7 linked regions of the Homo sapiens genome follow. The protein of the gene in region 4 interacts with the protein of the main gene of each other region in a pairwise test. Each region holds a gene or a part of one and is shown on either strand. Other genes may lie near its edges. The genes, in order: NR4A1, RET, NFE2L2, STAT3, MAP3K7, LMO2 and BLK.

The links.
Region 1: the proteins of STAT3 (region 4) and NR4A1 interact in binary tests that used the Homo sapiens proteins (3 or more experiments, as listed by UniProt).
Region 2: the proteins of STAT3 (region 4) and RET interact in binary tests that used the Homo sapiens proteins (3 or more experiments, as listed by UniProt).
Region 3: the proteins of STAT3 (region 4) and NFE2L2 interact in binary tests that used the Homo sapiens proteins (3 or more experiments, as listed by UniProt).
Region 5: the proteins of STAT3 (region 4) and MAP3K7 interact in binary tests that used the Homo sapiens proteins (3 or more experiments, as listed by UniProt).
Region 6: the proteins of STAT3 (region 4) and LMO2 interact in binary tests that used the Homo sapiens proteins (3 or more experiments, as listed by UniProt).
Region 7: the proteins of STAT3 (region 4) and BLK interact in binary tests that used the Homo sapiens proteins (3 or more experiments, as listed by UniProt).

Annotation. Positions count from the first base shown.
Region 1 is NC_000012.12:52,054,442-52,057,222, forward strand, and holds part of NR4A1 (nuclear receptor subfamily 4immunitygroup A member 1), read left to right. Parts: coding exon 1-763; intron 764-1,588; coding exon 1,589-1,718; intron 1,719-2,052; coding exon 2,053-2,204; intron 2,205-2,615; coding exon 2,616-2,781. UniProt on the Homo sapiens protein: Orphan nuclear receptor. Binds the NGFI-B response element (NBRE) 5'-AAAGGTCA-3'. Binds 9-cis-retinoic acid outside of its ligand-binding (NR LBD) domain.
Region 2 is NC_000010.11:43,083,569-43,087,068, reverse strand, and holds part of RET (proto-oncogene tyrosine-protein kinase receptor Ret isoform a precursor), read right to left. Parts: intron 1-3,500. UniProt on the Homo sapiens protein: Receptor tyrosine-protein kinase involved in numerous cellular mechanisms including cell proliferation, neuronal navigation, cell migration, and cell differentiation in response to glia cell line-derived growth family factors (GDNF, NRTN, ARTN, PSPN and GDF15).
Region 3 is NC_000002.12:177,233,728-177,237,227, forward strand, and holds part of NFE2L2 (nuclear factor erythroid 2-related factor 2), read right to left. Parts: intron 545-3,500; coding exon 278-544; intron 1-277.
Region 4 is NC_000017.11:42,325,943-42,329,442, forward strand, and holds part of STAT3 (signal transducer and activator of transcription 3), read right to left. Parts: coding exon 3,468-3,500; intron 258-3,467; coding exon 174-257; intron 1-173. UniProt on the Homo sapiens protein: Signal transducer and transcription activator that mediates cellular responses to interleukins, KITLG/SCF, LEP and other growth factors. Once activated, recruits coactivators, such as NCOA1 or MED1, to the promoter region of the target gene.
Region 5 is NC_000006.12:90,542,073-90,545,572, forward strand, and holds part of MAP3K7 (mitogen-activated protein kinase kinase kinase 7), read right to left. Parts: intron 2,561-3,500; coding exon 2,480-2,560; intron 1-2,479. UniProt on the Homo sapiens protein: Serine/threonine kinase which acts as an essential component of the MAP kinase signal transduction pathway. Plays an important role in the cascades of cellular responses evoked by changes in the environment.
Region 6 is NC_000011.10:33,885,577-33,889,076, forward strand, and holds part of LMO2 (rhombotin-2), read right to left. Parts: intron 1-3,500. UniProt on the Homo sapiens protein: Acts with TAL1/SCL to regulate red blood cell development. Also acts with LDB1 to maintain erythroid precursors in an immature state.
Region 7 is NC_000008.11:11,556,887-11,560,386, reverse strand, and holds part of BLK (tyrosine-protein kinase Blk), read right to left. Parts: coding exon of another isoform or gene 3,472-3,500; intron 2,498-3,471; exon of another isoform or gene 2,426-2,497; coding exon 2,349-2,425; exon of another isoform or gene 2,122-2,348; intron 1-2,121. UniProt on the Homo sapiens protein: Non-receptor tyrosine kinase involved in B-lymphocyte development, differentiation and signaling. B-cell receptor (BCR) signaling requires a tight regulation of several protein tyrosine kinases and phosphatases, and associated coreceptors.

The sequences.
Region 1 (2,781 bases), on a different chromosome or scaffold from region 4:
CAGCCCCGAGGCAGCCCCCGCTGCCCCCACTGCCCTGCCCAGCTTCAGCACCTTCATGGACGGCTACACAGGAGAGTTTGACACCTTCCTCTACCAGCTGCCAGGAACAGTCCAGCCATGCTCCTCAGCCTCCTCCTCGGCCTCCTCCACATCCTCGTCCTCAGCCACCTCCCCTGCCTCTGCCTCCTTCAAGTTCGAGGACTTCCAGGTGTACGGCTGCTACCCCGGCCCCCTGAGCGGCCCAGTGGATGAGGCCCTGTCCTCCAGTGGCTCTGACTACTATGGCAGCCCCTGCTCGGCCCCGTCGCCCTCCACGCCCAGCTTCCAGCCGCCCCAGCTCTCTCCCTGGGATGGCTCCTTCGGCCACTTCTCGCCCAGCCAGACTTACGAAGGCCTGCGGGCATGGACAGAGCAGCTGCCCAAAGCCTCTGGGCCCCCACAGCCTCCAGCCTTCTTTTCCTTCAGTCCTCCCACCGGCCCCAGCCCCAGCCTGGCCCAGAGCCCCCTGAAGTTGTTCCCCTCACAGGCCACCCACCAGCTGGGGGAGGGAGAGAGCTATTCCATGCCTACGGCCTTCCCAGGTTTGGCACCCACTTCTCCACACCTTGAGGGCTCGGGGATACTGGATACACCCGTGACCTCAACCAAGGCCCGGAGCGGGGCCCCAGGTGGAAGTGAAGGCCGCTGTGCTGTGTGTGGGGACAACGCTTCATGCCAGCATTATGGTGTCCGCACATGTGAGGGCTGCAAGGGCTTCTTCAAGGTACCGCGCAGCCCCAGGTGGGGCCTTTTGTTGGAAATGGAGAGAGGCTGGCCTCATCCCATTGGGACCTGTGGTCTCCCCCTGGGTTCTCCTCCTAGCTAAGTCCTGTCCTGCAGGGTGGGATCAGCCCTGCCAGGTGGGCCGCCTTCCTGGAGACCCGTAGATGCCAGGGCTGGAAGCTTTCATTTGCCGGGACACTCGGGCCCATGGGATTGCACAGAGCTGGAGGGAGGGGTGAGATAGGGGCAGATAGGAGCTGCAGGGGTGCCTGGCGAGCCTCTGGTTTTCCTCTGCTCCTCTGCCTGTCCTCTCCCAACTCAAGGTTCTAGTGGGAAGGGGTGCCCCCAGGCTCTCATGTTCCTGGCGTGAGATGAAAGGATCCCTGCGGAGGGTTTGGTTCTTGAGGGCTGGGGGTGGACTTGGGAACAGGCTGTGTGTTTGTCCCAGCGATGGTGCCTGCTTAGCTTCCCGTCCCCACCCCCCAGCCCCTTGGCCCTCTCCTGTCTGCCCTAGGGAGAAGGCAGGTGGACAAGGGCCCATGAAAAAATACAGGTGTCTAGACTGCCAGGGAGACCCTGGCCCCCAGTAGTGTGTCCTGGGGACTTCCTCAGAGCGAGAAACCTCCCCCAATGTCTTCAAGACTTTTCTCTCCCCCCGCCCAACCCCGTCTCTCCCTCCCTTGCCACCCAAATGTTAGAAAAATAGCTGTGAACAGAGAGCGCTTTTGTCTGCAATGGCAGCAGGATCTGGACGGTCCCCTCCCCTAAGTTCCCCCCTCCCCACCCCACACTCTGACAGCTTGTTCCGTGTTGCCCCCCCACCCAGCGCACAGTGCAGAAAAACGCCAAGTACATCTGCCTGGCTAACAAGGACTGCCCTGTGGACAAGAGGCGGCGAAACCGCTGCCAGTTCTGCCGCTTCCAGAAGTGCCTGGCGGTGGGCATGGTGAAGGAAGGTGTGTGGCTGGGGTGCGGCCCAGCGGGGCAAGGGTAGGCTTGAGTGGAGTGGGACCAGCAGGGCCCCCAGGCTTCTGCCCTGGAGGACCCAGAGGAGGGCACGTCTTATTTCCACCCCACCTCTGAACCCCAGGCCTTGGAGGGAGGCAGCCTACACCTGCCTGGATTGTGAGGGTGGTGGCAGGGGGAGGTTCCTATAGGGTACCTTGGATCTCAGGGACTCTGGGTCCTAGGGACTCGGTGGGGCGCGTCTCAGCAGTGGTGTGCACGGCTTGGGCTGAGAGGCCCTTCCTCAGATCCCTTCCTTCCTCACCCCTACCCATTCCTTTGCAGTTGTCCGAACAGACAGCCTGAAGGGGCGGCGGGGCCGGCTACCTTCAAAACCCAAGCAGCCCCCAGATGCCTCCCCTGCCAATCTCCTCACTTCCCTGGTCCGTGCACACCTGGACTCAGGGCCCAGCACTGCCAAACTGGACTACTCCAAGGTGAGGTCCCACCCCGTGTCTGCCTTGGGGAGGTCTATGAGCACATGCAGTGCCTTTGTGCGTGTTAGGAGAGCTACCCCCTCTGGAAGGACTGAATGAGAAAGGAGGTTTAAAAAAGAAAGAAAGAAAAGCGACTCCCTCCAGTTCGACAGATCAAAGAGAGGATCCCCCTCTCGGCTGACCAGATGGGAAAATGCACCCCCTCAGGCAGGTGGCCAATTAGAAAAATATGTCCTTTTGGCAGCTGCAGCCCTGGGTTAATATGTGAGACTTGGCAAGTGAGAGCCTGGGCAGGATCTCAGATCCACTCCCACTCCCGGGATCTGGCATCCAAGTGTCTGACACAGCCATACGTGGCAGTGGGTGTAGGAGCCTGCCTGGGGTGCTGACCCCACTGGACCGTCTTCCTAGTTCCAGGAGCTGGTGCTGCCCCACTTTGGGAAGGAAGATGCTGGGGATGTACAGCAGTTCTACGACCTGCTCTCCGGTTCTCTGGAGGTCATCCGCAAGTGGGCGGAGAAGATCCCTGGCTTTGCTGAGCTGTCACCGGCTGACCAGGACCTGTTGCTGGAGTCGG
Region 2 (3,500 bases), on a different chromosome or scaffold from region 4:
ATTCCCGCTGCACACCCATGGTAGAACTGCAACCAGGACATGAGCCTCCTGACACCCCTAAAAGCCATGCAGCCTTCTGCCGTGAGTGGGGAAGGGGTCCAGGCATGGCTGAGGTTTGGGAGAAGGAGGTCCGCAACTGGGCACTGGGGGACCTGGCAGCCCAAGGCTACCTTCTGCACACAGACCCAGCCTTCTGCTCTGAGGGGCCCAGGCCCTAAGCTGCACGATGGCCACCACCCACACTTCCATACCCAGACCAGCTGCAGCGGCCTGGCCAGGATGATGGGCGCTCCTGCCCAACTGCAATTTCCCAGCTGCTGCAGAGTTAATCACCAGCCTCACTGGCAGTTGCTTCCGGCTTCTATGCAAAGGAAACTGCCAATTAGGTTATAATTAATTTCTTTCCTAGGGCAAGGCCTGGCTGAACAGGACTGGCCACCCAAGTGGCCTGTGGATGACCATGTAAGGGTCACTGGCCCCCTTGGCTGCAGGGCTGTAGAGTCTGCCCCAGCTGATTACATTGTTCACTGGCCCTGGCCTGGGGCAACGGGGCCAGGGCATCACCACTGGCTTTGACCCTGGTGCCTCTGGCCTGGGCAACTGTCCCCATGCACTCAGCAAGGCAGTGACTCAGATCATGTCCATGTGCAAATTTAAGTCAATCTGTCAGCTCATGTTCCTCAAGCTGAGATGGTCTTGCCCATTTTCGCCCTACCCCAGCCCCTTCTCATCCCTGTTCAACATTAACCAGTAGGAATCCACGGTGTGCTCCTCATGAGCAGGTCTGCTCCGGGCGCTTCATCTGCATCACCCACTGCATCAAAACAACTGTCAGAGGTAGGGACCATGAGGATTCCCATCTCACACAGGAGGAAAATGAGGCAGCACTAGCTTAGGTACCCTGCTGGAGGCCACACAGAGGCTAGGAATTAAGCTGCAGTCTGGCCTGGGCTTCTCTGTTCAGTGACAGGCATGCAGAGAAGCCGAGGCACCGTGAGCTACCACCCCTTCTGCATTGGGCTGCAGAGTAGAAGCTGGGCTCTCCCTGGAGAGAGGACACAAAAAAGGCTTGAGGGTCTGCTCTTAAGAGCAGTGGAGAGCAGAGGGAGAGAGCCAGGAGCCTCTGAGACAGTAGGTTTCAGCCCAGCACAGACCTGGGGCCAGACAAGCTGACAATCCTGATGCCCCAGGTCACAGCCAGGCAGCCCGATGCGGGGGCACCACCTGCATCTGGATGCTGTTATCCAGGTCCTGGGAGCAAAGACCTCAACATCAAGGGTGAAGAAGAATCCAAACCCAAGGCTGGGGATGCCATGCAGGGAAGGGGATGCCCAGGGAAGTGGTGCCAAGTCTTCATCTGACACTACCCCCATGTGTGACAACTCACGCCTCCCTCAGGGCCTCGATTTCTCCCTGTGTAAAATGAGAGGTTTGCACTGATGTGTAAGCTCCTCTCAGCCGAGGTCCTCATGCCCTTTGAGTCCACGTGATGTCTATGCAGGAGTATCCACAGAATGAGCTCCTGACCAGGGGCCGAGGGGCAGACGGTGGCCGAGATGGAAATCAGGACAGGCTCTGGCCTAGGTGGCCCCTGGGGGGTGAGGGACATGGGGCCAAAACAGGATTAAGACTGCAAGTGTCCTCCCAGGCCACTGACGATGAGGCAAGAAGACAAAGGCCTAGTCCAAAGGAGAGAGTTCAGCAGCAGAAAGGAGAGAGTTCAGCAGCAGGAAGGAGCAGAAACGCAGGGCAGAGCGGCCCAGCCCATGCCCCTGTGCTTCCCCGCTGTTTGCCAGGGCTGGGCACTTGGCTTCCCTGGCTCTGTCCCTAGCTGCGAATGGGGACAGGAACTCCTCCTTGGGAGCACAGAGTGCCTGCCTATGGATGCCAGTGTTCCACCCCCACCAAGCAGATTTGCAGGAGCCCACAGAGGCTGCCTGCCACCCTCGGTTCAGGGCCCCCCAGCTCCATGCTGGCCTCCAGAGCTGCCTAGGTGCATCCACCGCTGTCCTGAGAAAACTGCCCCAGGGCCTGGCAGCATGACATCACACCACGGCAATGATGATAATCAACTTACAGCGGATCCGATTATCAGCCTGGTTATTTTTAGAGTCAGGGTTCAGGATGAGCGAGAGAGGGCGGCCCTGGTTCCCCTGCTGCTGAGTCTCGTCTTGTCAGTGGGGTGGGGGTCTGCTGGCTCCTTGCACCTTCCCCTTCCTCCATCCTTCACAGGGCGGTTCCTGAGAGGCCCCTTCTTATGCACAAGCAGTGACACCATGGTTTCCAGATGTTGGTGCTCAACGTGGCCTCAGAGTCCAGGTCTTCCGAGAATGTCCTCAAGGTCCTCGAGGGCAGTGGTGATTCAATGCCCATGTGAGGAATCAGACGAATCCACACTCTCCTCACAAGGGACCTGGGGCTCAATCACTGACAGTGACGGCCCTGGATAAAGCTGCTTCTCTGCAGCTCTTGATGCAGATGCAACAGCAAAGTCAGCTGTATGGCAAGACAGCCATCTAGTTAGACAACAGGCAGAGGGCTCGAAGAGATGCTTCTCCAAAGAGACATGCAACTGGCCAGCATGCACAGGAAAAGATGCCCAGCACGCCATCACCGGGGAAAGGCAAACCAAAGCCACAACGAGCTAGCACTGTGCACTGGCTGCACGGCCAGAGTGAGACATGAACCAGAGAATAACAGAGAATAATGCGTGGTGGTGAGAATGTGGATAGATTGTAACCCTTGGGAATGTAACACAATTCAACCACTGTGGAAAACAGTTTGGCGGCTCCACAAAATATAAAACAGAATTACCTAGCGATTTCATGTCCAGGTATGTACCCAAAAGAACTGAAAGCACGAACTCAGGTATTTATAACAGGAATGTCCCTGGCAGCATTTTTCATAACTGCCAAAAGGTGGAAAGCACCCACGTGTCCATCCCCAGATGAATGGGTGACGGCACACTATTTACCCCTCACAGGAAGGGGCTGATGTGTGCCACAGCCTAGAGGAACCCTGAAGACCTTATGCTGAGTGAAGCCAGACAACAGTCCATGCAGATGAAATGTTCCAGGACAGGCCAAGCCGCAGAGACAGAACGCAGGCTGGGGGTTGCCCGGGGACAGGAAGCAGCTGTTTAATGGGTATGGGGTTTCCTTTTGGGGTGATGCAAATTTTTTGGAACTAAGGCAATGCCTGTTCAATGCTGTAAATGTGCTAAATGCCACCAAATGGTTCACTTATAAATGGTTAAACTTATGTTACACAAATTTCACAATTAAAAAAGAGTAAACCATAATTATTTGCTACCCTGTTTCCCCCTCTGTCCCCCTCAGCTGCTGGGCCCGCCAGGAGCCCCTGCTATGTGGACCAGGACAAGGGATGGAGAGCTGGTAGGCAGAAGTGTGTGCAGGTACACCCCTGCGTGCCCCCATCCCCGCGTCCTCTGTACTTGAAGCCTCCTGGGGTGAGAACGACCATGTGACAGGATCCCACGG
Region 3 (3,500 bases), on a different chromosome or scaffold from region 4:
GCTACTTGATCCTTACAGGATGTTTCTATACTTTACAAAACTCTTTGGTGTAACTTAAGTCTTCCCAATCCTCACAATAACACTGTTAAGATCAATAGGTTGGGTACTGAACTCAGGTTAGGTACTGAACTCATCAGGAGGCTGAGGTTGGAAAGTAGATTTGACAAGGTTAAGTAAAAGAAAGGCAAAGCTGGAACTCAAATCCAGATATTTTAATTCCTTGCTCAGTGTTTCCTTAAACCTGCCATAACTTTCCCAAGAACTGAGTACTCTGTACCTGGGAGTAGTTGGCAGATCCACTGGTTTCTGACTGGATGTGCTGGGCTGGCTGAATTGGGAGAAATTCACCTGTCTCTTCATCTAGTTGTAACTGAGCGAAAAAGGCTTTCTCTTGCTCCTTTTGGAGTTGTTCTTGTCTTTCCTTTTCAAGTTTTTTCTGTTTTTCCAGCTCATACTCTTTCCGTCGCTGACTGAAGTCAAATACTTCTCGACTTACTCCAAGATCTATATCTTGCCTCCAAAGTATGTCAATCAAATCCATGTCCTATGTTTAAGACAAAAAAAGGAAGGAGAGAGCTCATGTTTTTTAAATGACAGATACCACATAAATTAATTCACATTATGCCACTGTTGATGGTGGGAAGTGGGGAGATTACAAATACAATCTAAATGAGAACACAGATCCAATGTTCTAGAAGAGCACAGTTAATTCCATTCAATGAATCTATTCATTAAAGACAACAAACAACCTACAAACACATAGCCATCCATTCTAATCACTTGGATCATTAATGATAGGGTGATGGTAGAGGTCACTAAAGGGCAAAGTCACAAATGGTTTGAATGAGAAGAAATCCCACCCTTGTTTAATGGAATATAGAAATTAGAGCAAGCACTCTAAGCCACTGGCTTATATAAGAGAAGTGGGGTCTGGAAAACATTACTGAATACATGGAGTTTTCTTTAAACTTTGCTCAGCAAATATCCAGTTTATAGAGGGATAACTCTCAAGTTAAAGTGTCAATCTAGCAGTTGTGAAATATCACCATTCTTTCCATCTTTCCTACACTAGATTATCTTCTCCCCATCACTGCTTGCTACTCTTATCTCTGTGGCTTACCTATATGCCTGTAATCCCAGCACTTTGGGAGGCCAAGGTGGGTGGATCACCTGAGGTCTGGAGTTCGAGATCAGCCTGGCCAACATGGTGAAACCACGTCTCTACTAAAAATACAAAAATCAGCCGGGTGTGGTGGTACGTGCCTGTAATCCCAGCTACTCAGGAGGCTGAGGCAGGAGAATCGGCTTGAACCTGGGAGGCAGAGGTTGCAGTCAGCTGAGATCGCACCACTGCACTCCAGCCTGGGCAACAGAGCAAGACTCCATCTCAAAAAAAAATAAAATAAAAGCAGACAGGGACAGGTGCGGTGGCTCACGCCTACAAGCCCAGCACTTTGGGAGGCTGAGGCAGGTGGATTGCTTGAGCCCAGGAGTTCGCGACCAGCCTGGGCAACATGGAGAGACCCTGTTTCTACCAAAACAAAAACAAACAACAACAACAACAACTGGTGTGGTGGCGCACACCTGTGGTCCCAGCTACTCAGGAGGCTGAGGTAGGAGGATCACTTCAGTCCAGGAGGTCATGGCAGCAGTGAGCTATGATCGTGTCACTGCACTCCAGCCCGGGCAACAAAGTGAGACCCTGTCTCATAAATAAATAAATAAATAAATAAAACTATGGCTCCAGGGAAGGATTAAAGGTATTAAGTTTTAAGACATAGGAAGAATCTTACAAAGAGGGAATGGTTTTGATGAGGAGAGGCTGAGCTTGGTGACTCAGGCCTGTAATCCCAGGAGTTTGGGAGGCCAAGGCAGGAGGATTGCTGGAGCACAGGAGTTACTAGCCTGGGCACCATAGTGACACCTGTTTCTACCCAAAATCAAAACAAATTAGTTGCACGTGGTGATACGAGCCTGTAGTCCCAACTATTAGGGAGACTGAAGTGAGAGGATTGCTTGAGCCCAGGAAGTCAAGGCCATGGTGAGCTGTGATTGTACCACTGCACTCCAGCTTGGGTGACAAGACCCTGTTTCACACACACAAAAAGATACATGGGGAGAGAATTTATATGACTAGGCTAGGCATAGGAACCACATCCAGATTTTCCTAACCAAAAATGTGTCAATAGCAGTTTTTCTGATTTGTAATTTTAGTCTTTGGAAAAATCTAAATAGGTAGGAAATCTAAATCTGTTTCCATTCCACAAATCACCTATAGGGGAAATAATTAATTTGAGAATGGAAAAAAATCAAGATGGGGGAACGGGAGTTGGGACTTGAAGGCCAGTGGGTACAGTGTAGACACGTCACACTTTGCATTTCATTCTGCTGACAGCTGGCAACGCCAGACTTAGAGTTCTATTACTTTCAGCTTCCCAAGGACGCAAATAACATGGTGGTTGTTTCAGTGAGGAGTCAGGCTATTTTTATCCAACAGAGGAGCAGGCCACCCAGCCTGGAGGCAGCGCAGCTAGCTAGATGGCACAGGCCACCTGTGTCCATGATTGAAGGTTGGCGTTGGAATCTTAAATGCTATGAAACCCTGCTCATGGGGCTCATTATTCTAGCCTTGAACAATATATATTGTAAAGCACACAAAGTAGGCATAGTTAAAGTAGCACTTGTAGTTAGGTATACCTCACTAGGACATACCTAATTATCTTTAAGCCAGTATCTATTAAGGGCTTCCTATATGCTATGCACTGTTCTAAGTACTTTACATATAGAAACTATTCCTCAAAACAGCCTTATACAGAGAAAACATTCCTGTTATACAGTATAAGAATACTGAGGTTAAGAAAAAAGATACTACCAGAAAGTGGCTGAACAAAGACACATACCCAGGCAGCTTCAGTCGGGTTCATGCTTTATTAGCCATGAGCCTACACTATTATAAAATGGCATGGCATTTGCTGCAAATAACCTATGCATATCCCTTTATATACTTTAACTCATCCCTGGATTACTTACAATACCTAGTAAAGTGTAAATGCTGTGTAAATAGTTGTTATACTGTATTTTATGTGTGTATTGTTATTTTTTCGGGTTTTTTTTCCACTTTTTTCCTTTTGAAATTTTATTATTTATTTACTCATTTTGAGATAGGGTCTCACTCTGTCACCCAGGCTGGAGTGTGGTGATGCAATCATGGCTCACTGCAGCCTTCACCTGGGCTCAAGTGATCCTCCCACCTCAGCCTCCCAAGTAGCTGGGACTACAGGCACATGCCACCAAGCCCAGCTAATTACTTTTTGTAGAGATGGCGTCTTGCCATTTTGCCCAGGCTGGTCTTGAATTCCCGGGCTCCATTGATTTTCCTGCCTCAGCTTCCCAAAGTGCTAGGATTACAGGCATGAACCACTCCACTGTGCTTGGCCTTTTTCCAAATATTTTTGAACCAATCTGCCATTGGTTGCATCATGGAACCAGAGGCTGCATGG
Region 4 (3,500 bases):
CTTTATTGCCAGATGGGATGCCAAGGATTTTTTTGGAGAAAAGTAAGCAAAAATAAACACAGTGTTAAGCAAACAGTAATCATTCCACCTTCTCTTGTAAAAATCCCAGTGGAAGTTTTTGTCCTGAGTCACCCCTGTACGTAGCCTCTCACCGATTCTGCTGCAGAACTTACCTCTAGGTCAATCTTGAGGCCTTGGTGATACACCTCGGTCTCAAAGGTGATCAGGTGCAGCTCCTCAGTCACAATCAGGGAAGCCTACAGTAACGAGAAGGACACTCTTAGGCCAGGTGTGGTGGCTCATGCCTGTAATCCCAGCACTTTGGGAGGCCAAGGCAGGAGGATTGCCTGAGCCCAGGAGTTCGAGACCAGTCTAAGCAGCACAGCAAAACTCCATCTCTGCAAAAAATACAAAAATTAGCTGGGTGTGGTGGTGCACACCTATAGCCCCAGCTACTCGAGAGGCTGAGGTGGGAGGATGGCTTGAGCCTAGGAGATGGAGGCTGCAGCGAGCTATGATTGTGCCACTGCACTCTAGCTGGGGTGACAGAGTGAGACCCTGTCTTAAAAAAAAATTAAATTAAATAAAAAAAAAGGCTGAGCGTGATGGCTCACACCTACAATCCCAGCATTTTGGGAGGCCGAGGCAGGTGGATCACATGGTCAGGAGTTCGAGACCAGCCTGGCCAATAATTTGGTGAAACCCCGTTTCTACTAAGAATACAAAAATTAGCTGGGTGTGGTAGTGGGCGCCTGTAGTCCCAGCTACTCAGGAGGCTGAGGCAGGAGAATCGCTTGAACCCAGGAGGCAGAGGATGCAGTGAGCCGAGATCACGCCACTGCACTCCAGCCTGGGTGACAGAGTGAGACTCTGTCTCAATCAATCAGTCAATCAATAAAAAAGAGAAGGACACTTTTCCTCAGAGAGAATGGCATTCAGTACTAACAGCCACAGCCAAGGAAAGTGACATGCCAAGCCTCACCACACCAAGAAGGGTAAGCCACCAGGTGGTCACAAACAAACTGCCAGGGACACAACTTGCTCGGCACTTACTCTCTTCAACACCAAGAACTTCCAATGCTGTGATCCTCAACCTAATCCTTTACTCAGTTTGTATTATAATATTACATAGATCCAATTGGTTATTTGTAAAATACGTAAGGCACAAAGAATAACAAAACAATATGAACCCACCATTCAATTTAAGGAAAAGTCCATCACTCCTAAAATTCTCTGGGTGCCCTTCCCCAACCCCATCCCCTTCCCTCCTCCCTCAGAAATAACTGCTATTTTGTCTTTTGGGTTTATCATTTCCTAGCCCTTTTTGTCTTGTTTTGTTTTGTTTTTTTACAGTTTTACCATATTTGTTTATCTAAGCAATGCAGGTATTGTTTAGTTTGGGACATTTGTGAACCTTACACTTATGGACTCCAATGAATTCTTTTGGGATTCACTTTTCACTTGATGTGAAATGAATCCACATGGTTATGTGTATCTGCAGTGTATTCCTTTTCACAGCTGCGGAGTATTCCATTGTGTCTATACCACAAATAATGTATTCATTCTAATGTTGATGGGTATTTATTTGGGTTGCATTTAGAGCTTATAATCAGGCTGATGTCCACTTTATATATGTCTCCTGGGACATATATGCAAAGATTTCTCTGCTATTAAATCCTGGGAATGGCACCGTTGGTTTACAGGTATGTTCATTTTTATACTGCCAAATTGTTTTCCAAACTGACTACAACAATGTCTCACATCAGTACAGCAACCTTATTTTAAGTAAGAGTTGTCAATGAATTCTCAAAAATTGAATTCTAGTCTGGGCACAGCGGCTCATGCCTGTAATCCCAGCACTTTCGGAGGCCGAGATGGGTGGATCACGAGGTCAGGAGTTCAAGACCAGCCTGACCAATATGGTGAAACCCTGTCTCTACTAAAAATGCAAAAATTAGCCAGGCGTGGTGGCATGCACCTATCGTCCCAGCTACTTGGGAGGCTGAGACAGGAGAATCGCTTGAACCTAGGAGGCAGAGGTTGCAGTGAGCTGAGATCGCACCACTGCAATCCGATAGAACGAGACTCCGACTCAAAAAAAAAAAAGAAAAAAGAAATTAAATTATAATTCATTTTTAATACTATTTTTCTGATTATAAAAGTAATATATTCAGTTTAAAATGCAAATATCACAGAGACAGTCTAGAATAGCCATGGATACCAACAGCAGCACTAATACACATAGCACTGCTGGTATATTCCTCCAGAATTTCTTAATATACATATGAATACACATAAGAGTATAGTGTATTTTTAAAACACATATACTAATAATACTATTCAAATTATTTTACATTTTGCTTTTTCTTAATATGTCATGTACATTTTCCCATATCATTGCATACAGGCTACTTCACTCTACTGTCAAGTAAAATTCCACATTTTTAAAAAGGACTGCTACATTTTATTTTATTTATTTTTTTGAGACAGAGTTTCACTCTGTTGCCCAGGCTAGAGTGCAGTGGCAAAATCTTGGCTCACTGCAAGCTCCACCTCTCAGGTTCAAGCGATTCTCATGCCTCAGCCTCCCCAGTAACTGGGACTACAGGCGTGCACCACCACACCCAGCTAATTTTTGTATCTTTAGTAGAGACGGGCTTTCACCATGTTGGCCAGGCTGGTCTTGAACTCCTGACCTCAAGTGACCAGCCTGCCTTGGCATCCCAAAGTACGGGGTGTGAGCCAGCACGCCCAGCTAGGACTGCTACATTTTAAAGAGGAAGAATTGTTCAGGGGACAAATGTAAGAAAAAGAACGGGGCATCACAATTTTTAAAAATGACTGAAAACTAGCCTTCCGTCACATTTACCTTTTTTTGTTTGTTTGTTTAAAGTTTATTCTTGACAATAAGAATCCAATAATCTGAATCAATGAAAAGCAGAAAATAAGGGGGATAAAGAACAAGATGGGTTTTTGTTTGTTCATTTTATTTTATGTACTCTTTTCCTAAGCAAGCTAATGCAAGGTGGTCATTTATTTTAAAGTTTAACTCAAATCTGTTGCTTTTACACCCTCTATCCCACCTCAGTGGGAGAGAAAAACAGGGCACTAAAAATGGAGCCAAGCAGGGTCAGCCGCAGGAGCTGGATGGGGAATTTGGAAAGCCCCAGGCAAGGTGGAAAGCTGCTTTATACCACATGGGTGTGGAGAACAACTCAGCAAGGGACTTTCCACTTCTCCTTAAGGAGGAGCCAACTCCCAGATATTCACGGAAATGTTCCAAGCCAGAGAGCTCCATGGCACATGGAACTTCTGTTCATGTCACTTTGGCCTGAAGTGACTTTTTGGAATAACTACAGCTGAAAGAACAGGTTGATGTTTCTAATTCTGGGGATTAAGAAGGATCTTTACCCCTCTCTCCCTCAAGGAAAACACCCCAGTTGTCTTTCATCCCCAACAAAACTTACATCACAATTGGCTCGGCCCCCATTCCCACATCT
Region 5 (3,500 bases), on a different chromosome or scaffold from region 4:
TTTGCTAATACCATAAAGCTTGTGGGAAATCCACTTAGAACAAAACAATTTCTAGAAAGTATTAAGAAATTTTGGAAATTAAGTATCACCCTTCTTTACAATTAAAATGTCATGTAGGAAATTTGAGATATTCCCAAAGGATGGGCGGTATTTTTATATTTAATTTAAAAACATTACCTATGAGCACATTCATGATTGGCTTTTATGTCCACTAGTGTCAATTCTACAGCTTGTATTCTTCTATTAAAGAAAGTGCACCTGAGTAAGTTAATGTTTGATATCTGAGGGGGGAAAAGCCTAAAAAGAATATTTAATAAAAGGTATTACTGAATAATATTTTCATATGAATAGCACTGCTGCTCTGGCAATTAAGAGAATTAAGGTTACCTGATTCCATAAAGGCCCAATGTCATAAAAGAGGATCTCCCTGGCTGAAGAGCTCTCCTTAATGTGAACACTAAGAGAAAGCAAGAAGAAATTACTCTAGCTTCTCTGACTTAAACAAAAGAACAAAAAATGGATGTGACTTGGAGTCAGAAGATCTGGGTTGGGGTCCTGGCTATATGATTCTGGAAAAACCACTAAACATCATCAGATCTAAGTTCTTCGTCTGTTAAACAGCTATAATTTCATCCGATAACCTAGTTGTAAGATTGTATAAAGGTAAAATAAGATGTACTTTAAGCTACTTTGTAGGGCACAAAGAACATCTAATCAGGGGTTTTCAGCCTCAGCACTGCTGCCATTTTGGGCTGGATCATTCTTTGTTGGAGAAGACTGCCTGGTACACATCAGGATGTTTAGCAGCATCCCTGGTCTCTGCCCACTAGATGCCAGTAGTACCTGACAGTTATAAACTATTATTCTTTCCTTATTTTTCCCTCCCCCATTATCTTGTATAGCGTGGGCTACGCTGCCATATATAAATTTATTCTTAATGCTTAGTCATAAGATTACACTGCCATCTGTCTAAATTTTCCTGATTCCCTCAAACATTTAAGGGAAGCACAGTTCAGCGGTATGTAAGTTTAAATGCTTCCACCTCTTTAAAGTACGTCCCTTATACACAGTACCTTTCCGCATGGAGGTAAACTGATCTCCATGTAAAATGATCTCTTTGTTAATTTCTGAAGCAGTCCAGATTCAATAAATAAAAATTACCATGTGAAAAATGGGTTAACTCTACTCTTTGAATAGCAATAGTAATGATGTTGTAAAATAAGAAACCACTTTGATAACCAGGGGAAAATTAATATAAGATAGTTTTATACAGACAAAATGGCACCTAAGAATAGTATAATTCATATTTTTGTATGCTAGTTTCTCACCAGGGGAGATGCTCAATAGGTCTGTTCATTTATTTAATAAATGTATTTATTAAACACTATGTTAATATGCTTAATATGTGAAGCACTGAGCCAGCAACTGCTGATACAATCAATAATAAGCAACAACAACAAAATAATGCACAAAGATATGGATTCTATCCTTACATAGTTTTCAGTTTAGTAGAGGAGAAAATAACCATTAGGTATTCAACTAGAATTATCAACACTGCTAAAAACACAATCACAGGCAAAGGACAGCATGCTGAAGAATTCATCCAACTCGCACTCATGAACGTGTGTGGAAAATATGTATTTCCTTATCAAGATTTTGGGTAAAGAGGTAGAGAAAAGCCTAAAGGGATAAATAAATGATAATTTTGATAATACATTAATCAATACTGAAGGTCAATATGCCATTTAAGTTTCTATTAAAAATGGTAACATATTCCTCTATGAAATGATCACCATAAGAAATAAAGCAGTTTACCAATTTTAGACACTAAAGTACCATGTGTAAGTTAGGTATAAAAACATGTAATTTATGAGATTCTCCTGATAATACACAAAAATCAGAATTGACCAACTATTTTACATGATTCTTTGGCAAGATACCCTGCAAAACAGCACATCTCATTTAGCTTTACTTTTTGTTTTCCAGGTTAAGGCAAAATGCTATTTAGCAACTCTCTTCTCTCAACTTCACATTCACTTGCTACCAACAGAAAGAGGTTAGGACAGAAAGTCTAGAGGGGACCCAAAAAGCAGTAACTGAGGAAGGAAAGGAGCCAAGGAAAATAACAAATTTTAATTAGTTGTTTCCTCTTTCTGTTGGGTGCAAAAAAGGTCTGGGTTTAGCTCATGTGCTCACTTAAAAGTAGAGAGGAAGTTGGTAGAATTCTGGGTTGGTGTTCTCCCTTCTCCAAAAAGGTTTACTTTCTCTTCTATTTTATCCTCACTTATTGTAGATCAGAGGTATCTTTTCAAGACTGCTTCAGAATAAATGTAGTTTTTCAATCTGTCTCCCTAATTACTGCATGCAAGGTATCCATTTTCATGTCTTGTAAAAATTGGAGCAAGAAGCATTTTACAAGTACCAGGGATCATTATTCCGGTTCCACAGCTATTAGACCAACTCAGGTGGTCTATGATACCTGATATGACGATCTCAGGGACATCCAGAATGTTGCCAAATGAAGCAGTTTTACGGTGGCCCCGTTTAGGCTTGGAATAGGCTGCAAAAACACATATATACAGTATACATGCAAACAACCACAAACAGTAACACGGAAAATGATTAACTACAAAAATAGACTCATTTTCAAATAGTTCATGTTAATAACATTTCATGCAGAATGGCATGCAGAACTACCTAACTTTTCATCCATGCTCAGAAAAGGCGAGATTAAAGAGCAAACAACTACCAAATACAAGATGTTTTACACACTGGTTTTAATTAGCAGAAAAAAATAAAAAGAACAGAGACAAAGCTGCAGGGTAATGAGGAAGCAAAATTTCAAATATATTCATAGAAACAGTCTACCTAAGTGAAATCACTGATCTGTGATGGGGGTGGGGGAACGAAGGAGGAGAGGAAGAAAGGCGTTAAAAAGTAAGTTGTCGTATTTGTTTTAATTACACAAACACAGGAATACATGTTCAAGTTAGGTGTTTCTTGAAGTGTGCTATAAAGTAAAATCCAATGATTAAATAATAATTATTGAATCAAAGTGTGAAATGTATATGCTTTTGTAGTCATACTTATACATATTTCTAGTACCAAATATTTATTATATTTTCCAAAGTTTAGGGTACATTCACAGTAAACACAAAGTCTGTCAAAAGGCTGGAAAGTATGACTCTTTCCAAGTAAGACAATTCATGAAAAAATTTAAATTGTGTAAAACTCAAGGGATGTACAATAGCATTTGTTCTACACTTAGGCAAAATTTTAATGTGTGTGGTTATCCTTCTAGCAAAGTCATTTCTGTAAATAATAATAAAAAACCAGTGCTTGACTAGAAATATGATACTAGCGAAGACATGAAACCATTATTATAACAATTTTCAGTTTTGAGACAGCAATTAGTATGTGGCAGATCTATCCTGAACAACATCCCTGAAGTGAAAAGGGTTCCTCAAAGCATGAGGGTATGTCCCGGTGAGTAGGGTTCA
Region 6 (3,500 bases), on a different chromosome or scaffold from region 4:
AATTGCTTTGGGAGGCCCAGGAAGGGAAGTTCCAGCCACAATGGCAATGAGGTTTATTGTGCCCAATGGGGAGGAAGTGAGAGGAGAGAGTTATAACTTTGGTGGCCTGTGTGGTGGCCACCCTTTTCAGGTATGTGACAAATGCTGATTGAGGGATCCCCCAAGGGAAGCTGTTTGTGCTCCAGCAAGGGGGTCCCTTGGTAGATGATGTGGGTAACTGGTGGGCAGCCTCCAGGATGCAGTGGTTGGCTGGGCTGTGGTCATCACCTGCAATGTGGCCATTGTCTCCCTGGGCTGGTACACCTTTTTTTTTTTTGAGCCAGAGTTTCGCTCTTGTCACCTAGGCTGGAGTGCAATGGCACAATCTTGGCTCATTGCAGCCTCTGCCTCCCAGGTTCAAGCAATTCTCCTGCCTCAGCCTCCCAAGTAGCTGGGATTGCAGGTGCCCACCACCAAGCTTGGCTAATTTTTTTGTATTTTTAGTAGAGACGGGGTTTCACCATGTTGGCCAGGCTCGTCTCAAACTCCTGACTTCAGGTGATCCACCTGCCTTGGCCTCCCAAAGTGCTGGGATTACAGGCATGAGCCACCATGCCCGGCCACAACTCTTAAGTCAGATTTGGGTCATGGAGATATAGGCTGACATCTGGAAGGGTGTCACAAAGATGCACAAAGCAGAAGGGGTGCTTGAGGGCACATTTAGAAGGGGTGCTGGAGGACACCACATGCGCTGGGCTGACAATTGGGCATCATTTCTATGATAAAAGTAGTTTGTAGGGGAGGTGGGACTAAACATACAGGACCACATTCCTTTTTGTTTGTCCTGATGGCTTCTCAGGATGATGTGATATTCCTGGCCCATGGTGTTGTAGAAGAATTGTACATTCCAAACAGATAGGGATGACACTGTGGGTGCAGTATTGCCGAGGTGTCCCAGCGCTGAGTAGGGAAACTGTGTCCCAGGCCACCAGCTATATCAGGCATAGCCAGCTATAAAAAACCTAAAGGTTTCACAATAACATTTTCAGTTTTTAGACTCTGTAATAGCATTTAGGGCTGGCCTTTTATAATGACAGGGGCATCTGTATCCCACAGCTGTGAGTGGCTGTCTGTGCTTTGGCATCCGTGGTGGGGAATAGACAGCCTCAGGCATTGTTATTTCAGAACACGAATGTTGGGGGGCTCCTTTGTCTTGCTCCAAGATCCACATGGTGGTAGGTGTCAGTCCAGGGGCCAATATTCTATCCCCTGTGGAACAAGCTTAACATTAGCCAGCCTTTAAATCCATCACAACTGGTAGATGTGTTAGGGGATGGGAGAGCCTCATTTCCAGGCTGGTAGAAACATGTTGTCAGGGACTTCGCTCTTCCATCCATAGCCAGCAGGTCCCACTTATTATTTGCCATTGGTCTGACACCGATGCCTTGTGAATTGTGGATAGATTGAAAAAAGATATAGGAATGAAGGATCAGAGGAGCAATCCCACATGGGAATCCATGACTTGGAACCTGGGACTCTTGTCAGAACTAGTAAGTGTAAAATGAGGGCATTTTATTATGGATGAGGGGCCCATAGGGGCAAGTATCAAGGGAGATAAGAGCAGTAAGGAAAACTGATTTGGAAACCACAAGCCATTTTGTAGCTTTAAGAGAATATACATCATTGTGGAGTTTGCGGTAGCCTGGTGGGAGAAGTGAGCCAGTGACAGACAGGAATACATGTCCACCATGGTTAGGGCATATTGTGGGGTTGGGGAACCTGAGGGAAGGACTCATTACCGTCAATTTTCCATCATGAGTGTGGTCAGTTTCCTCAGTGATTCTGCTAGGAGTGACATATTGCACCCACCCATACTTCTCCACAGATATTCAATATGTTTGGGATAGCAGTTGATTATGGGTGGGAAACGTAAATGCAGCATCTTATTGTGGAAGGCCTTAGCTGCAAGTCTCCAGGAATGTGGATTTTTTTTTTTTTTTTTTTTTTGAGACAGGGTCTTGCTCTGTTGCTCAGGCTGGAGTGCAGTGGTGATACTGTGGTTCACTGCAGCCTTGACCTTCTGAGTTCAGGTGATCCTCCCACCTCAACCTCCCAAGCAGCTGTGTGTGCCACCACGCTTGGCTAATTTTTGTTTTGTTCTTTTGTTTTGTTTTTTGTTTGTTTGTTTGTTTGCTTTTTGTAGAGATGGGGTTTTGCCATGTTGCTCAGGCTGATCTCAAACTCCTGGGCTCAAGCCATCTGCCCGCCTTGGCCTCCCAAAGTGATGGGATTACAGGTGTGAGCCACTGCACCTAGCCAAGAATGTGGATTTAATGAGCCACTAGTCCATGGAAGACTCTTGAACAGGGGAAGGATGTGAGTGGAGTTGCATTTGGGTTGGGTTGGGGTGGGGAGAGGCTGGAGGTGAGGCTGCTGTGCTAGGAGCTTAACCACCAGTGAAGGGTTGAAGAAAGGAGGTGGGGGCAGGGGGAATGACTGAGTGGGCAATGACAGAGGCACTCACGTGACTGGCCAAGACTTGTCTGCAGGAGACCAGGGAGCTATAGCCAGGCAGCTGCAGGGCCATTGATAGAAGCTGCCATGGCTTGAGCACTTGCTCTATGCATACTCACGCAAGCGCATTCGTATATGATCTCGCTCATCCCTCACACTGAGGTCATTTGTGGGATGCAAATGGCCAGCCTTATGCTTCTGCCCCATCCACACAGGTCAGGGGCCATACTCTGTGCCACTGCCAGGGGGATCCTTTCATAACCTGCATCAGATCATTTCGCTCCTCTGCTTGAAGCTCTCCCAAGGTTTCCTTCTTGCCCAGAGTAAAAAGCCAAAGTCCTATAAGGCCCTGCATATCTGGCTCTAGCCATCTCTGTGTCCCCTTCTCTTACACTCCCTTCCTCCTTCCCTCCCTCTGCTTCATCCACACAGGACCCCTTGTCATTCTTCAAACTCTTGCTTTAGGGCCTTTGCTCTTCTCCTTCTTCCGGGAACATTCTTCCCCAGATGTGAGTTCTTCTTATTAGAAAGGTCTTCCTTCATCACCTGAGTAAGACACTAATAACCCGGGCCAGCGCATTCCATTTTCCCTCACTCTGTGTTATTTTTCTCCCTAGCACATATTGCCATCTGGCATACTATATGTGTACTTGCTTATTTGATTGGTGTCTGTCTCCCCCTCTCAAGTTTGTAAGCCCCTTTCAGGCAAGAGCAATGTTTGTTTTGTTGACGTCTACGTATCCGCAGTGCCTAGAACAGTTCCTGCTGTGTATGAGGCGCCCAGTAAACACTTGCTGAGTGGATGAATGAAGTGTGTATTATCATCCTGATTCAATGAAAGGGAAAACTGAGGCTCAGGAAGGGTACGCAACTTCTCCAGGCAGGACAGCTAGTAGTCGCCAAAGCCAGGGTTCAAGTCTGACTACAAAGCCTGTCCTATTTCCGTTAGGGTAGAATACCCTCGAGGAGTCTTGGATCTTTGTAACTGAGAAAATGGATCTTTAATA
Region 7 (3,500 bases), on a different chromosome or scaffold from region 4:
CCATCCACCCACCCATCCATCCATCAACACATCCATGCATCCATCCATGTATCCATCCATCCATCCATCTATGCATCCTTCCATGTATCCATCCATCCATGGATCCATCCATCCATCCACCCACCCACCCACCCATCCATCCATCCACCCATTCATCCATCCATGCATGCATCCATCCATCCATCCATCCATCCATCCATCCATGCATCCATCCATCCACCCACCCACCCACCCACCCACCCACCCACGCATCCACCCATCCATGCATCCATCCATCCCCTTGCTACACCATGCAATCAATACTCATTTACTAATATGGGACTGTGGGGAATATAAAACTGAGTACTAAATATATCTGGGCAGCATCTAACAGTACTCGTTCTGATAACTAATATTTATTGAACAGTACCAGAAATATATTTTAAAAAATGTTGAGTAGGGCCCAGATCTGCTTTCAAGAAGAAGCTGCCCAGATCTGCTGAGCAAGAACAGTGCTTCCGGGAACACCTGAGCTAAGGGCTCTCTGGCAGTTTCTTGTCCAGGGAAACCTTCATAGAAATGACATTACGCTTGAGCCATGGATGATGATAAGGATTCTGCCAGGTGGGAAGTGTTCAAGGCTTCCTGGGCAGAGGAGGTAGAGGGGTGGCGAGGCATGGGGCATGGGAACCGGTGGCATCTGGCTGCAAAGTGGGGCCCGAGGGATTGTGATTGCAGGGTTCCTGTGGGGTTGGCCAGATCTGGCCTTGGAAGAAAGGTCTGGCGAGACTTTGCATGGCTTCCTATGGAGTAAGAAAAGAAGAGCCCAGAAGGGCCGGGTGTGTGTCTGCTCATGTGTGTGTAAGTTTGCGTGTTTGTGTGTGTGTTTGTGTGTGTGAGTTTGTGAGTTTGTGTAAATGTGTTTGTGTGAGTTTGTGTTTGAGTCTGAGTCTGTGTATTTGTGTGTCTGTGTGAGTTTGTGTGTGTGAGTCTGTGTGTCTGTGTGTGTGTCTGTCTGTGTGTGAGTTTGCGTGTCTGTGTGAGTCTGTGTATGTGTTTGTGTTTGTCCGTGTGTGTGTGAGTCTGTGTTTTTATGTGTGTGAGAGTGTGTGTGTGTACATGTGTGCTTAGAGAGCCATTGGCATGGTCAGCATGTGGTTAGAGGCTGCCCTTCTGGGAAGTTCTGATTTTCTGGCTCCTCACCCCCGATTCTGTGGCTACATCCAGGTATTAAACTCCGATGGCTTTTCACATCCTTTGCCCCTGGGTCACACGAGATTTCCCAAGGGGGTGTAGTGGGGATTGAATAGGAGACAGCGGAGGGTGAGAGAAGGAAGGGGAAAGGAAGCAGCAGCAGTGGGCAGGCTTATCACTGCCCTGGGGTTTGAAGCCGGTTACCAGCACTCATTTTCCAAAACCAGCCTGCCCAGATGGCTGTCTGCCCACCTCAGCGGAAAAAGGCGTTGTGGCATCAGTTCCTGCAGCGGCGCTACTGGGTAAGGCTGGGCGAGGGGCGAGGTGGGAGGGCTGATGTGGGCGGTGGGTGGGAGCGTTTCCTCTCGGTGGCAGCTGTATGTGTGTGTGTATGTGTACGCACGTGTGTGCCTCACAGGCTGACCACAGACCAAAACTTTTCTGCTGAGAGTTCCAGTTTTAACAGGGCCACCAGATGTGCTTCCTGCCAGCTAGAGCTCTCGGCTAAAACCCTCCTCTCCACTCTGCTCTTCACCCCATGGAGTCCAGAAAGTTCTGCATGTGAACGTGAGGGACACTGAGGACCAGTCCTGGGTAGCCAAGGAGGTCCAGCACTCGCAATTCCCTGGTGGCAGAAGGTGGGGCTGTCCTCCAGGGCTCAGAGAAGTCATGTCCCTGGCATCTGTGTGTAGCTCAGGCCTGCCCATCAGCCTGGGGTCGACGCCAGGGCTGTGCAAAGGCTGAGGGCCCCTGGGATGGGAAGTCCTACAGGAGATGTTTGTGGGCACCATCTAAGGAAGAGATGAGGTCACAACAGAACACACTTGCCTGCCGGGTTCAATGGAACTCTTGCTAACTCTGTGTGTTTCCCATGACATTCATTCGCCCTCTCTTCCTTCGGAACAGAATAGCCTCATTCCAACACAGCAGCCCGGGTCTAAGGCTCCATTCCCTGGGCTCCCTCACAGCTGCGTGGGGCAGGAGGCACAGTGGCCAGGGTTTGCAAGTCCAAGTGCAGTGGGTGACCTTGGGGATATCTGCCTAGAGGAAGGTGGCCTTCAGTACCCCCTGACTTCTCCTGCTGGCTGAGAGGATGGGGTGGTAAGGCACGAGCAGCCATTGTGGGCAGCAGGTGGCACATGCCGCCCTTTCTCTGCACCTGGTACTTCACCAACCTGCGCCGACATGTCAATCAGCCTTGGGAGTGACAATCTGCTCCCTTCATCTGTCTTCAGGAAATCCAGCAGGCATCCTAAGAAAAGAGAAGTTGCAAGTGCCCTTCTGCAAAGTGACCCGCCCCTGGTGGTGCCAGCCTCTCTCTGGTGTGAGTGGCTCCCCATGGGCGCGGGAAGTGGGAGTTTGCACCCTCAGATCTCTCGGTGCATCAGGAAGGATCTACCTACTGCTGCCGAGTGCCTTCCACTTTACAAAATGCCAGTCTCAGCACCCCGGGAGGCAGCCAATATACCAGCAGTTGCCCAGAAGTTAGGTTTCAGCCAGGTGCAGGGACCTGTCTGAAGTCACCCAGCCGGGAGCTGGGAGTGGGACCCCAGTTCTGACTCGAAGTTTCATGCCCCTTCTTGTCTTTCCCCCCGTGTTGGCCTCGCTCCCTTGATCCCTGCTGGCAGACACCCTCTGCCTCTGAGGACCAGGCATCAGCAAGAAAGCACCAGAATGGAGAGAACTGTCCCCCAGGTTTGGTGCAGGGGACAAATGCAGCTCCCCCTGGAATCAGAAAGCTGGGAGGGATGGATGCTTGCCCTAGGGGCAGGCTAGAGGCACCCCCAGCACAGCCTCCGACCGGGGGCCCCTTGGTGACAGTTGTTAGGGAGCTATATCAACATGGGCATGTTAGGATCCTATAGGAGCAGTGTGCGGTCAGGGTCATAGGAGGGTGAGAAAGTGGCATGAGAACTTGGCCACGCCGTGGACCTCAGAGGCCATCAAGCCCAACCTCTCTGGCCATCCTTGTAAAATATTCACACAGTTGTAAATGGTTGCATGACCAGGAGGCAGGAGACCTGGATCTAGTACTGTCCCTGCATGCCTGGCCTGGTGTTCGTCTGACTTTGCAATGCTCTGTCCCTCCCAGCAGGCATCAAAGAGTGCTAGGCACAGAAGATGCACTCCAGAAATGCTGTCTGAACTGCTCCTGGGCTGAGAACATGGCTCTGTCAGAACCACTTCACCCTCCTGTTTCTCACCCTCCCTCTGTCCCTCCCCCTCCCTCCATCCCTCCCTGTCCCCACACCGTGCCATGCCCTAGATCTGCAGGACCCCCTGGCCTGGTGAACCCACCGCAGCGGACCCTCCTCCTCCTGCTAAGC